4 linked regions of the Homo sapiens genome follow. The protein of the gene in region 1 purifies or fractionates together with the protein of each later gene. This does not show direct contact. Each region holds a gene or a part of one and is shown on either strand. Other genes may lie near its edges.

What was found.
Region 2: the proteins of GPR173 (region 1) and TPCN1 purify together in Homo sapiens (affinity purification with mass spectrometry; one large-scale study listed by BioGRID and IntAct). This does not show direct contact.
Region 3: the proteins of GPR173 (region 1) and SLC30A7 purify together in Homo sapiens (affinity purification with mass spectrometry; one large-scale study listed by BioGRID and IntAct). This does not show direct contact.
Region 4: the proteins of GPR173 (region 1) and RBKS purify together in Homo sapiens (affinity purification with mass spectrometry; one large-scale study listed by BioGRID and IntAct). This does not show direct contact.

Annotation. Positions count from the first base shown.
Region 1 is NC_000023.11:53,051,789-53,055,288, reverse strand, and holds part of GPR173 (probable G-protein coupled receptor 173), read right to left. Parts: intron 1-3,500. UniProt on the Homo sapiens protein: Is a receptor for the SMIM20 derived peptides Phoenixin-14 and Phoenixin-20. It mediates the Phoenixin-14 and Phoenixin-20 augmentation of gonadotropin-releasing hormone (GNRH) signaling in the hypothalamus and pituitary gland.
Region 2 is NC_000012.12:113,273,464-113,276,963, reverse strand, and holds part of TPCN1 (two pore channel protein 1), read right to left. Parts: intron 3,396-3,500; coding exon 3,296-3,395; intron 46-3,295; coding exon 1-45. UniProt on the Homo sapiens protein: Intracellular channel initially characterized as a non-selective Ca(2+)-permeable channel activated by NAADP (nicotinic acid adenine dinucleotide phosphate), it is also a voltage-gated highly-selective Na(+) channel activated directly by PI(3,5)P2 (phosphatidylinositol 3,5-bisphosphate) that senses pH changes and confers electrical excitability to organelles.
Region 3 is NC_000001.11:100,906,090-100,909,589, reverse strand, and holds part of SLC30A7 (zinc transporter 7), read right to left. Parts: intron 2,739-3,500; coding exon 2,625-2,738; intron 1-2,624. UniProt on the Homo sapiens protein: Zinc ion transporter mediating zinc entry from the cytosol into the lumen of organelles along the secretory pathway.
Region 4 is NC_000002.12:27,887,588-27,891,764, reverse strand, and holds the start of RBKS (ribokinase), read left to right. Parts: upstream 1-1,377; 5' UTR 1,378-1,419; coding exon 1,420-1,508; exon of another isoform or gene 1,509-2,309; intron 2,310-3,009; exon of another isoform or gene 3,010-3,056; intron 3,057-4,177. UniProt on the Homo sapiens protein: Catalyzes the phosphorylation of ribose at O-5 in a reaction requiring ATP and magnesium. The resulting D-ribose-5-phosphate can then be used either for sythesis of nucleotides, histidine, and tryptophan, or as a component of the pentose phosphate pathway.

The sequences.
Region 1 (3,500 bases):
ATCTGGATACATCCACACTCTCCTCCAACCCAGTTAAACCCAAACTCTCACACCTCATCCAGATACACATACATGCTCTTCCCACAGGAGACATGCGTGCTCACACCCCTACCACACTCAGAAACACCCCCACTCTCACACACAAACACAATCTCGACCCCCAATTCTCTCTTAATCACCATCAGCCAGATCTACTCACACTGCACACACACAATGCAGATACATCCATACTGTCTCACACACACCACCCATACACACACTCCATAGACACCCCCAATTATATACACCCCCACCCTCACCCAGATGTGCCCAAATTCTCTTTCTCATGCACACCATCACAATACACCCTATCACACACTTCCATTGCCTAGATACACTTGTGCTCTCACCTACTGACATATCATCCACATATAACCACACTTGGATCTCCCTGACCCCAATATACCCATACTCCCTCATATACATACTCCACCCAGGAAACACCCACACTCTCTTACACACACAGTACAGACACAGCCACACCAGCAAACACATACGCCACCCAGGTATCCCCCACCCTATCTCACCATCCAGATAAACCCATACTCACACACCCCTCAAATACACACATCCTCACCCATATCCCCAACCCAACTCTCACTCATACCATCCTCCACACACACAGGCCACTTTACATACAACCACACTCACCCCCCCAATCCCAAACACACCCAAATGCCTCACACGCACACCCTACCCAGAAACACCCATACACCCATGTGCTCTCTCTCTCTTTTTTTTTTTTTTAGATGGAGTCTCGCTCTGTCGCCCAGGCTGGAGTGCAGTGGCATGATCTGGGCTCACTGCAACCTCCACCTCCTGGGTTCAAGCAATTCTCCTGTCTCAGCCTCCCAAGTAGCTGGGACTACAGGCATGCACCACCACGCCCAGTTGTATTTTTAGTAGAGATGGGGTTTCACCATACTGGTCAGGCTGGTCTCAAACTCCTGACCTTAGGAGATCCACCCGCCTTGGCCTCCCAAAGTGCTGGGATTACAGGCATGAGCCACCGCACCCGGCCCATGCTCTCTCTTACACACATGCAGACCACATCCTTTCTCTCTCACCAGATATACCAGTCTACACACACACACACACACATACACACACACTCTATTAAGATACTTTCACTTTTATATATACACACTCACATCTAGATTTCTGCCTGGATGGCATAATTTGGGTCCTCTCAGTGAAAACTATTTACCAACCCTAGATATCATACAATGCCACTCTACTCTGGGCCTTTGATGGTTGGGGGGATGAGAAGGGAGGTCTTTGTGTTTCAAGGAATCTTTTTCTAAATAGGCCTCTTTTCCCCAGTAGGACATCAGCCATGATTGGTGCCCACTTCTTGAGTGTGAATAATGACAGGAATTATCCTGAGACCCCCACAAAAGCCCAGTACATGGTCAAGGCCAGAGAAGCCCCAGAATGGGGGTCACAGGCATCAGGTGTCATAGTTTGCCAATCTGCAGGATGTCTACACACTTACAGACAGACATAGTCTCGCAGGGCACCACTGACTCTCAGTCATACACACAAATACATACTGAGGTACACAGACTTGTAAGTATTCTCCCTTTCCATCCCCTTGTCAATAAGGCCCAATCCGCACAGGCCCAAGGCCAAGTATCTCTCTCTCACATCGACTGACAGACACATGCACAAATACCTACACTCATCCTTACACATGGACACACTCACACTGTACTTAGTCATACGTGTACATCCATTTACTCTTAAACATAGGCACGCATGCGTGACATACATTCACATGACATAATGCCCATGAATGACGTACATTCACTCACAAACACAGGGGTACATACAGGCATACCTTCACATGTCCACAGACAGACAGACTTTGTATCACACCCAAGGAGATGATGAACAAACATGGACACAGACAGGGAAGCTCCCAAATGTGTGCACACACACACCCAGACATGACCACATATATTTACACACTCACACACATAAACACCTAGATATGCACATGCTTGTAAATGACATGAAGTATAGATATGCAGACATTCCTAACACAGACTTGTACACACAACTGGGCATGTTCACATGCACATAGACTTGTTCATTAATTCATTCCCATATGCTTACACTCAGACATGGAAATACAAATGTACTCACAAAACATGCCCACACTATCACAGCCAGATATGTACACCATGTACATTCCTACAAGTTCATACACCCATATGAGAAGCTACACAATAAAGAGGAATCATTTACACCTACATTCTCACAGATGGACTTGGACACAAAGGTATATTCACACACATGTACACATGGAAGTACACTCACATGCACACAACTGTACATCCATACAAGAAGGACTGATCCACACTCATCACAGACACACACACATCCTCACACACATCCTCACACACACACACTTAAACACACTTGTAGGCTGAGAGTGACATGCATGGACGTTACCTTACATTGTGTTCTACAACATATGCTCCAGAACAAAGATGCATAAACACAAACACATACATGCAAATAATTAGAACTGTACAAACTGGCACATTCACACATATGAATATACCTCTGTGTATGCCTGTCTGAATGTACAGGCATACACACAGGCATATTCACACACACACACACACACACACACACACACGTGTGTGTGTGGACAGATGTGTGTGGACATATGTGTATGGACAGGCAGGCATATACAGACATGTTCAATGAAACACACACAGCCAGATGTTCACACCTACTAGCATATACACCCACATATACACTCACAATCACAGGCATATTCAAATACACATTCACACTCACATACTCAGAAATTCAGACAAAACACATAATGAGACATGCACACCCAAGTACCTACTCATGCACGCCACAGACATGTACTCACACATAACAGTGTACACACAAACACAATTAGACATATAGACAATGCATCATTTCACCTATGCACACAGCATTTTGCGTGTGTGTGTGTTTTTGTGTGCAGACAGGCATACACCCCCACACACAGCCATACTCACATACATAATCAAATGTGCACATGTAGGCATACCCACAAAATAGATTTTCATTCACACACTCTCCCCTACCCATAAAATTAGTTCTCCTTATATTAGTGTGCCCACCTATATTAACATTTCTCTAATCGGATGTGGACATAAAGGTTTGTCTACAGGTGATATACACTGGAACATGCACACACGGACATCTATATAATTTAAAATGCTGGAGAACCCACATACAGACATTCACAGAAAGTCAAAAGCCTGCTTACACAAATGCAGGACAGATACACTCATATATACACACACACATATACACCCTCTCATACATGCATGGACATGCACATATATGCCCTTAACACTCACAAGCACACCCTTTAGATGCACCTACACTCATGAGCACACACCAATATGCACAAGCAGATACAACTAGGCATTCATCTAATTGGGCAT
Region 2 (3,500 bases), on another chromosome or scaffold:
GCGTTTCTCAATGTCATTGAAGGTGTCGAACACCACAGCCAGAAGCTGTGGGAGAGAAGCACAGAGCCCTAGCTCAGGACCTTGAGTGGTTAGGGCAGGGAGTGCAGGGGGGTATGAGTTCATCATCTAGGCAAGGCTCTTACCCAGTCACCCCAGAGAGGCCCTGGGGAGACCCTCTCGCCTGCACCTCATGGGGTAGGAAGTCAGTCTCCCAAGTCTCAACAGAGGAAGGCCCTTTGTTCCGCTTGTAAATTTCCCTCTTCAGATACATGAAGGCATTGTTACTCCATCTTTCCCAGGTTCCCCTCCACTTTCCCACACTCCTTTCCCCAGTTCCAGCTACAGCTTGTCCCAGGCTGCGCAGGGGCAAGCCAGGGGAGGAGAGAGTAGCAAGAGGGGCGCATCTGGATTCTGAGCCCAGTCCGACTCCAGCCAGTGGCAGGCGGAGGCTGCCTGCCCACTGCCCTCCTGACCTCCGATCCAGAAGGACCCTTCCTCCCCCTGCCCCTTTGTTACTTCTCCTTGTGAGTCACTGCTTCACGTGTGGCCCAGGAAAAAGGGGAGTGAGAGGCTCTGCATGCAAGGAAATAACGTTCTAGAGTTGGCTAATACCAAAAGTTAGCTTATCAGAGGGGGATGGAAGGCCGGGGAAGAACTTGAAAGAATCCTTTTTAGAAACACTTTCTCTGTCTTTAAAAATGTTTTAAGGGAAACTCTCTGGTCCTTTCCCTCAAACTGGTCCCCCATTTTTTCCCTGTGGATCAAAGGTCAGCATGCTTTTTCTGTAAAGGGTTCGACAGCAACTGTTTTAGGCTGTGAAGGCCAAATGATCTCTGCTGCGACTACTAACCTGTGGTCATATCATGAGATCAGCCACAGACTATACATGAACAAATGGGCATGACTCTGTCCCAATGAAACTTTATTTACAAACACAGGCCATGGGCCAAATTTGGCCAGCAGGTCGTACTTTGTTGACTGCTGCCCTAAATTTTCACAGCTCTAAATATATTATGAATTAAATCAAATACAAAGAAGTACTCAACATATTTCTTCTTGGTTTTGAGGAATTAAAACAAGAAAATATTTTCTCAGGCCGGGCACGGTGGCCTGTAATCCCAGCACTTTGGGAGGCCGAGGCGGGTGGATCACAAGGTCAGGAGATTGAGACCATCCTGGCTAACAAAGCGCGAAACCCCATCTCTACTAAAACTACAAAAAAAATTAGCCGGGCGTGGTGGCGGGTGCCTGTAGTCCCAGCTACTCGGGAGGCTGAGGCAGGAGAATGGTGTGAATCCAGGAGGCGGAGGTTGTAGTGAGCCGAGATCGCGCCACTGCACTACAGCCTGGGCAACAGAGCAAGTCTCTGTCTCAAAAAAAAAAAAAGGAAATATTTTCTCCTTTTTAAGACTTAAATTTTGGCCAGGCACTGTGGCTCACACCTGTAATCCCAGCACTTTGGGAGGCTGAGTCGGACGGATCACCTGAGGTCAGGAGTTCGAGACCAGCCTGACCAACATGGCAAAACCCTGTCTCTACCAAAAATACAAAAATTAGTCGGGTGTGGCGGCATGTGCATGTGCCTGTAGTCCCAGCTACTTGGGAGGCTGAGGCAGGAGAATCGCTTGAACCTGGGAGGCGGCGGTTGCAGTGAGCTGAGATTGCGCCACTGCACTCCAGCCTGGGTGACAGAGCGAGACTCCATCTCAAAAAAGAGAAAAGGACTTAAAATTTTTTAGATTTCACAAGTCTACCTGGAAAAGATGATTTTCATTTCTATACTGGGCCTGACTGTGGTGACTGGTGTGAGAATGCTCTGCAGAAGCATAAAAATAAACACAGGACTCGATCGGAAGCCTCTCCCCGTTAGCTCTGCCATGGATGTGTGGTCTGGGCACCGGCCTAACAGCCTGGTGTCGGATGTGATCTGTGATGGCTGGGACACTCCTGGAGGCTGTCCACACCTCCACAAACACCCTCAAAGTTCTTTGAGCACAGAGGCTTTACGTTCTCCTTCACAGAACGTGTTCTATACTGGATTTTCTGATGGTTCCTGATAAGTGAGGTAGAAATACACAAGACATTTCTGGCACGTGAGTGCAACTGAACAGAGTGGTTAGGAACAGGGCTCTGGGATGAGCCTGGCCTGGCCACTCCAAGCTATGTAGCCATGGGCAAATCACACTGTCACTCTGACCCTCAGTCTCTTCATCTGCACATGGAGAACCATACTCACTACCTCCACGGTTGTGTTTATTTATTAAATTATTTCATCCTCATATGTAAAGCACTTTGCATAGTGCCAAGTGGCTAAGGCTTACTAAATGCCAGCTTTTATGGTTATTATAATATACTTGGCCTTCTTTATCTGTGGGTTCTCCATCCATGCATTCAACCAACCGCAAATCAAAAATATTCCAAAAAGAAAAGGATGGTTGTATCTGTACTGAACATGTACAGCCTTCTTTTTCTTGTCATTATCCCTAAACAATATAGTATAACAATTTTTTTTTTTTGATACAGAGTCTCGTGCTGTTGCCCAGGCTGGAGTGCAACGGCATGATCTCGGCTCACAGCAACCTCCACCTCCTGGGTTCAAGCAATTCTTCTGCCTCAGCCTCCTGAGTAGATGGGATTACAGGCACCCACCACCACGCCCAGCTAATTTTCATAAGTAGAGACAGGGTTTCACCATGTTGGCCAGGCTGGTCTCGAACTCCTGACTTCAAATGATCCACCCACCTTGGCCTCCCAAAATGCTGGGATTACAGGCGTGAGCCACCATGTCCAGCCCAGTATAACAACTATTTACATAGCTTTTACATTGTATTAGGTGTTATAGGTAATGCAGGATAATTTAAAATATATGAGAGGATGAATGTACACAGGTTATCTGCAAATACTCTGCCATTTTATATAAGGGACTTGAACATCTGTGGATCTTTGTACCTACAGGGGGTCCTGCAAACAATCCCTGTGGACACCGAGGGTCAACTGCTTATTTCTGATGTAAGAATGAAAAGGTCCCAGGGTTGCCTGGGTTTCACATCCAGCACTACCAGCATCAGCAGCATTGCCTTGGTGAGGACGCCACCCCCAGCAACTGGCTGAACTCCTGAAGTCCCGACAGGGCATTCCCTGCAACACCGCACCTGACTATGAATCTGGGACTTCCTGCCCCAACGTTCTGCCCTGAGAGGCAGAAGACAGTCCCCACTTCTCCACTCCCACAGTGCCTAGTGCTGCATGGGTAGGGGCAGGCTGCTTCAGCGTAGCCTGAGGCATAGTCACTCACCAGGTTCATGATGAAATACAGCTCGATGGAGAGGTACACGATGAAGAAGACGCAGGACCAGGGGTTCCGGGAGTAGGAGGGCATCATCACATCTGGGAAACTGTATTTGCAGAGGGTGACCCGGCGTGCTGTATCTGCCTGTCTCCATCCTCTCAGAGCACATGCCTTGCAGAGGACAGCTCCTTGTCTGCCTTCCCAGCCTCCA
Region 3 (3,500 bases), on another chromosome or scaffold:
CTGTGTTTACTTAACAGATTGAGTAGGTCTTAGAATTAGAACATGTAATTCATGAATGTGCTGTTGCCTAATTAAGTATGGCTAGTGTTTAGATTCTTGAGCCAGGAAGAAAAATAGAAAAGATTTAAGTATAGGTACATATGTATATACGCATGTATGTATGTATCTATCTACCTACTGGATGTATATTACTTTTAAGCTGTCTTTGCTCTTTAAAAAATAAGAGTGTGGCAAGACACAAAGATGACTTTTATATAAAGAAATACTTAAAAGTCCTTGCTTGCTCTCATATTCCCCAACTCTTTCTTCTATTGCAGAGTCAGTCAGCTACAGCAGTCATCCTGAATTGGGGTGGGAGGTTATGAGAATTCAACCCTATGCTTAACATGAATTAATCAGTGTCATTTTGATTCACTGACACCAGTAGTTTACAAATGAAGCTACTTATTACTATACCAATTATTCATAGTGTTAAATATTGTACCAGCTTTTATTCTTTAATCTTTCCCAAAAGAAAACACACACACACACACACACACACACACATAAAGAGAGGAGAGGATTAAATTAAAGGTGGAAAGAATATTATTCTCTTACATCAACTAGCTAAAGCTGAACATTAAAATCTGCTATGGTACTGAAGGTATTCAAAGCTATTTCTAAAAACCATTTTAGAGCAGGAGACAATACATTCTAAATTGGAAACAATAGAAAATCTAAGCGTTAAAGAACTGAGAATTTTCAATAGTCAGCTACTGTTTATTCAGAAAGATTGTAGAATAAGCTATTCTAATTAGATTTCTGATATATAATATAAATAAATTACTAATTTTCCAACAAAAATTATAACTTTGGATATAATCTTTCTTTAATAATCTAAAATATACTTAAGAATCTTTTAGTAGCTACTGTTTAAATTATTTGCATATCACCAATATCATGCCATAAAAAGCGTTCTTATCTGAGCTGTCAAGCTGTTTGAATTTATAGATATATAGGATCTACTGCTCTATACTATAAAATGTACAATGAGTATTTTTTGGCTCACTTTTTATAATTTCAAAAATAACCATATCCCTTGCTTATAACTAAAATCAGCAAGTTCTGCCACAGAACTCCACATCTCCTTTTTGGCAACTGTCACAATATATAGCTATTATTGTATTTTTACAGAACTGTTTGCCCAAGAGACAAGTTCCGGCAAGGCAGGAGGCATGTTTTTACATCATTAGATCATTTTTACATCATTAGAACTAGAAAAGTATTTGACTCATATGGACCCTCAATAAATATCTAAACAGAACAAGAGCATGTGAAAGAAAGAGTGTGTGCCTGCTAAAGAAAGAAGCCAAGCCAGGGAGAAAGGGGGAGCAGTTAAGGACAGAGAGTAAAAGACATAACAAGAGGCCTAAGAGACAGTACATGAAAGAAGATGGCTGTAAAAAGGACAGGGAGAGAGTGAGAGAAACTGCACCGGAAAGGGAGAGCTCAGGGAAGGAGAATCAGTGAAGGAAGGAAAGAGAGACTTGGAAAGGGAGACAAAAAAGAAATAGAGCTAAAGAAGTTAAGAGAAGAGGAGGAGGAGAGATTGAGCCTGACAGATAAAGGGTTAAAAGGTAAAGGAAAAGAGCAGGAGAAAACAAAGAATAAGACAGGAAAGGTATAGGGGGACAGAAGAAGGAAGAGAGAGGAAAAAAGAGCATGAGCACAAGCCCAAGCGACAAGAAGCAAAGACAAGAGAAGGAAAAGGGAGTTCAGGAGAAGATAAGAGAGAGTAAGAGGCTGAGGAAGGGAACAAGAGTGAGAGACAGAAAATATGAGAGACAGATGAAGAAGGAAGAGAATGTAAAAGAGCACTCACAGGGGAAATGAAGAGAAGAGGAGGAAAAGGACAGAGGGGAAGAATTAGTAAGAAAGCAGAAGAGAGAGGGAATAGGAAAGACAAAGGGGTGGGGAAGAGAAAGAAACAGAGTATGCATCCTGAGCTCTGCTTACACATATATATAGCTATACTGCAAAATATTCTATGAACTCAAAAAAGGAAACACTCAGGCAGTGTAATCAAATAATGAAAAATCCACTGCTTCCTCCAATCAGAGGTGGCAGAAATCAAATTATGCCTCTAAGATGATCCAATGTAGTCCCTTCAGCATACAGATGCTCTACAAATATTTGATTAATTGTCCAACTCGGCAAGCATATAAGAACTGTTACATAAAAGCAGAGCTAAAGAACATAATATAAAACCATATTAGAAAATGATTTTAAATAAATCAACAGCAAAGTATCCATTCAAAAAGAAAAAAGCAAAAGCAAAAAAAAATCCTATTTTCATATACTAAAACTTTCTTCTTCAAAAAAAAGTTGAGAAATTCCTCTATATGGTAACAATCTCAACAAATTACTGTAGATTCCAATTATATACTATTCAAAAACTCATCCATGAAGTCATGAAAGTGGTTACCCTTGGGGAGGTAGGAACTCGAAGAGGCCTGAGTGGGGGCTTCAAAGATTCAAAAGTTACACCTGTGTTCAATTGGTAACAAGTCACTGAGCTTAAGATTAGTGTTTTTTTGTGTATATCTTATACTTCAATAAAAAGATTTTTTTTCTTAAAGTCTTACCCATAGGAGAAAGCATCATTATCTCTCCATTTTGAAATAACAGAAGCTGCCAGTCCAGCCAAAATGGCAGTGCTATCGAAAAACATGTGAAAAGAGTCGGAAATCAAGCCTAAGCTGGAAAAGAACAAACACATTGACAAATTATAATAAAAACCAAACAGTAGGCATCTTTCTCTGAAAGTCTAAGATTCAGCCTTTGTTCATCAGGAATTAACCATCTAAAACAACAATTTAAATATGCTATATAGATAGCTTTGAGGATAAGTTTTAAATATCTAAAAAGTAAACCCTCGTACCTCCTGCACAAGGAAAAGCCCAGCTGCTGCGAGAGAGGTAGAAACAAAAACCATCTGCTGCTGGGTGAGGGGTAGGAATGTGACCACTCCTTGGTCACTTGCAAAGGTCAGCTGCCACTGAAAGAGAGGTAGGAAAAAAAAAGCCATCTACTACTGGGACGAGGCTGATACCTGCTTGCACCCAGGATCTTACAAAGCAAAGGTCTGCTTTTGTTGAGTATCCTGCTCCACCCTTTTGATACCAGGCTGAGGACAGTGGGGACAGGCTGGGAGAGAGGGAGAGCGGCAAGATCATTAATACTCACCCTGACACTGAGGTGCACAGGCTTGCCTGACTAGGGATACAACAAGAGAACCTAGTCCCACCCTCCCCACCAAGTCTTGAATAAAGTATAAGGAACAGCAAACTACCAGTGAGAGCACAAAGAGATATGTGCAGAACTTGCTAAAAGCTGAGAGTGGAGCAAGAACCCTGAAAAAATCCTGCAGTACTCCAAATCCAATACTAATCACAAAGTAGTAGGAACCACTGAAAAATTCAAAGACTGTGATTTGTGGAAATCAGCAATAACAAAACACA
Region 4 (4,177 bases), on another chromosome or scaffold:
TCACGCAGTATTAAAATCTATTTCAACCATGAGGAGGTGTGACTTCTCTAAAAAAAAAGGGCGGGGGGTGGGGAGTGGAACACAATGACTCCAAAATCAGAAGTCACTTAGCCAAAAACACTGGTCCTTTGGTGCAGTGAACCGGGTACATGGACAGGGAGTCACCACCGGTAGTAACTCTTACGCATGGCAGCACTATAATACACCCCAGATATACAAATATTTACGGTGGTCAGAGTCCCCTGAATACTACTACTGCAATTTGTATTTCCTGATTTTGACGTATTGCAAAAGGAAAATGCAAAATTACAATTTTTGCAAGGGTCTGCTACCCCAAAATAAAGTTACAAAAGGTCCTTTGATGAGAGGCCTGGGGATTACAAAGACGTCTAAAGCACCATCCAGGTTCTTGCAATTAAAATGAGATGACAAACACGGAAACATGTGCCCTGCTGACGTCATGGAACGGAAAGGGGTGGCATCCTGCTGCGTCACGTCGACGTCATACAGCGCACGAGGGAAGTTACACTGGGGAAGCAATTTCCCCCAAGGGGCAACATTCGAGAAAAACAAGTTAGCTCAGACCCGAAGAATGACCACCCCACTCTAGGGGACGTCTTAAAAAGGGACACTCTCCCCTCTTCCAAACTGTATGATTCCCCTCATCAGGCAACAAGGAACTAATACTCGGGGTTTACAGGAACCAGGGGATGGGCCAGATATGGAGAAAGAGACGCCTCTGGCCTTGGGGGCTCGTTCTTGAGGGAATCAGCGTGATGGGGATGAGAAGGGCATCTTTGGAACGGGGGCCTTCTCCATAGGAAGAGGAGGCGAGTCCCCTGGCCATATTTAAACCACAGTTCTCCACGCCACCTGTGCGACTCGGGATCCAACCTCCCCGCACCAGCCCCAGTCCAGGTACCTGGAACTTAGTCCGATCGGTAACCGGCGACTACGTGGGGTACAGGTACCCGAGCGCGCCCCCGACAGACGCACCGACCTGCGCGCGCGCCGCGGGCAGGATGCGTGCGCACTCCCCGGACGTCCCGCCCCGCCCCCTCTGCGGCCCCGAAGCTGGGCGGCGTGCGCGCCCCCGCGCCGCGCCGAGCCGGGCGCTCGGAAAGGCGTCCCCGCGGTGCCTGACAGTTCCTTCCTCAGCGCCTGCCCCGTGAGTGACGAGGAGCGCGGAGTCTCGCCATATCAGGAGGGCCCTGTTACGTGAGGCTGTGCACCGAGACTATTCCAGGAAGAAGAGGGGACACTTGGTGGGCGGGGTGATTTCGGGCAGTCAGGTGGGCGACCCGCGTAGGCGTCTGAAAGGCCCGCGTCGTTAGGGAGGGCAGGAGTGGCGTCTCTGGTTACGGGGTCGGGCAAAGGGCAGAGGTCACCGTCCAGGTTGGACAGCAGCACCTTTGAGCGATGGCGGCGTCTGGGGAACCCCAGAGGCAGTGGCAAGAGGAGGTGGCGGCGGTGGTAGTGGTGGGCTCCTGCATGACCGACCTGGTCAGGTTAGTCCGGGGCCAGTTACTCAGTCTGCGGCTCGGGGGAGGAGGCGTGCCGTGCGCTATGCGCCCAGTGGAGCTTTTGGGCGCTGGGTCTCCAGGGATAGACAGTGCTAGCTTTGGGTATGAGCTGCAGGTTTTCGAAGCCTTCAGCCTACCTTCCTGGCATGAAAGAACTTGAGTATATAAAGGTAAATCTCAGGGGAGGGGACGTAATAGGCCAGGGTTTAGTGAAAGCTCTAATATTACTCAAAGCGCTCCCCAAAGACCTGCCCTCCAAAGACTTGCGCCCCCAAAGACCTTTCTTGGCCCGGCTGCTGAGCCTTTCCCCAAACGAGCCAGGGAACTTTGCCCACGTCATTTTACCTCCGAGAATGTGCCTACCTCACAGGGTTGTTGTGAGGACTAAATGAAGTAAAGTGTTTTGTCAAGCGTAACATTATCCAAATTGGGTATTATTCGTCTGAGCTTATTGTATAAAATAATGAGTTGAGCAGAAATCAAAAAGACTGTCACCTTTCACCATGTTGATTGTCGGCATTACTGCAGTATTTTATATTTACAGCGTATTTTTCAGCAAGCCAAGTATGAATCAAAATAAAAACATAAACACAGTATTTACAACCTCTGAAAACGATGATCAAATTATGATAGAAAATATGCCAAATGAAAATTGTTGAGTTAGGTCAGTAAGATTGAGTAGACAGATCCTTCTGATTTTTCTTTTTTTTAAATTAAGGTAGCTTTTCTGATTACAAAAGTAATGTATGTTCACTGTAAAATTAGTAATAAATTCAGATATTCCAAGAAAATCCTACCACTCCAATTACTGCAGTTCAGTCTTTTGATGAATATCTTTTCAGTTGTAATGCTACTTTGTGTTATAAAAATGATCAGGTATGCTACAGTAACACCTCATTCGTCCTGAAATGTTGCTTTTCCAAAGGGTAATAGAGAACGTGGAACTAAACAAAAAGGCTTTGGGACAATCAAAATAAGTCACCAAATTGCTGCACCAAACCACCTGTATTCTACTCAGAAAATAGGTCTAGGGTCTTCATGTAACCAATTTAACCTTACCTTAAAATATTTATAAGCTGTGTTACCAAATTTCCACTGAGATTAGAAAGGTGGGAGTTAGAGAAGAGACTGCTAGAGGCAGTTATAGTGACTGACGAAAACTTGAGGATGAGTAGGAGACTGTGTAACGAGAAGAAGCAACAAAAGAATTTTAAATACCAATGACCTTTATTTTTCCACAAATATTAGAACTATTCTGTCAGACACTGTGCCAAGATAAAAATACTTTCCTTTGGTGACAGAGCATAAAATTGAATCTAGTTGGAGACATTTGTTGAAGAGGCCTGTACATCTTTTTCTAGAGCAAGAGTAAGTAAACTTTTCTGTAAAGGGCCAGATAGTAAATATTTTAGGCTTTGCAAGCCGTATGTGGTCAAGGTCACATTTTTTTTTAACAACATTTTTTAAATGTAAAAACCATTCTTACCTCCCAAGCCTTACAAGAACATCCTGCAGGCCATAGTTTGCAGACATCTGTGTAGAAAGAACATTACTGTGTTTACAACACAATATAGCAATTGATTTTACTGGTGATGACTCTTTTCAAGAAAAGGTTATATGGTACTTACTAAATTTTGTATAAAAATAGAGCATGTATTTCACTTTAGAAAAAGTTTCATCAAAAATTCATAAAGTTGAGTTACATAAAGGAATAAACCTTCATCTAAAATGATTCATTCCATGGGAAATCCACCAAGCTAAATGTTTACCATGATTTTATGTGTGAAGTGGCAGAAGAGTAAGAAAACTAAAGTGGACCGGGCGCAGTGGCTCATACCTGTAATCCCAGCACTTTGGGAGGCCAAGGTGGGCAGATCACCTGAGTGAGGAGTTTCAGACCAGCCCAGCGAACATGGTGAAACCCCATCTCTACTAAAAATACAAAAATTAGCTGGGCATGGTAGCTGGCGCCTGTGATTCCAGCTACTCAGGAGGCTGAGGCAGGAGAATTGCTTGAACCTGGGAGGTGGAGGTAGCAGTGAGCTGAGATCGCGCCATTGCACTCCAGCTTGGGTGACAAGAGCAAAACTCCATCTCAAAAAAAAAAAGAAAAGAAAAGAAAATTTTCTCATACATCCTACCTGAATAAAAGTGTCAGGGTTAAAATTCAGAGCTACTTCCTTGTTACCAAACTGAGAGCTTTCTGTGAAGCTTGACCATCAGATACTAAAAATAACTATAGTACTTTGTGGGGTGGGGTAGGGGAGTGGTGTCAAAGGCCCATTTTAGCATCCGTCAGGGTTTTAAAGTCTTATTTCAGAGCTAGAAAAATTTGGAAATTATTTATTCTAGTCCTTCAGTTTTTAGATAAATAAACTGAAGCCCAGAGAAGAATTTCTCCTCTTGGCCATATTCTTTCCTTCATAAAATATCCAAGTTTCTTCTCTTCACATGAATCAGTAAAAATTTTACTGATGATTAGCAAAATCACTAGTAAAAATTTTACTGATGATTAGCAAAATCACTAGTAAAAATTTTACTGATGATTAGCAAAATCATTAGTAAAATCATCAGTAAAAAATCATTAGTAAAAACTGTATTCCCATATAGACTCTCTCTGCTAATTCCCACAGCTTTTCAACAAACTTTTCATG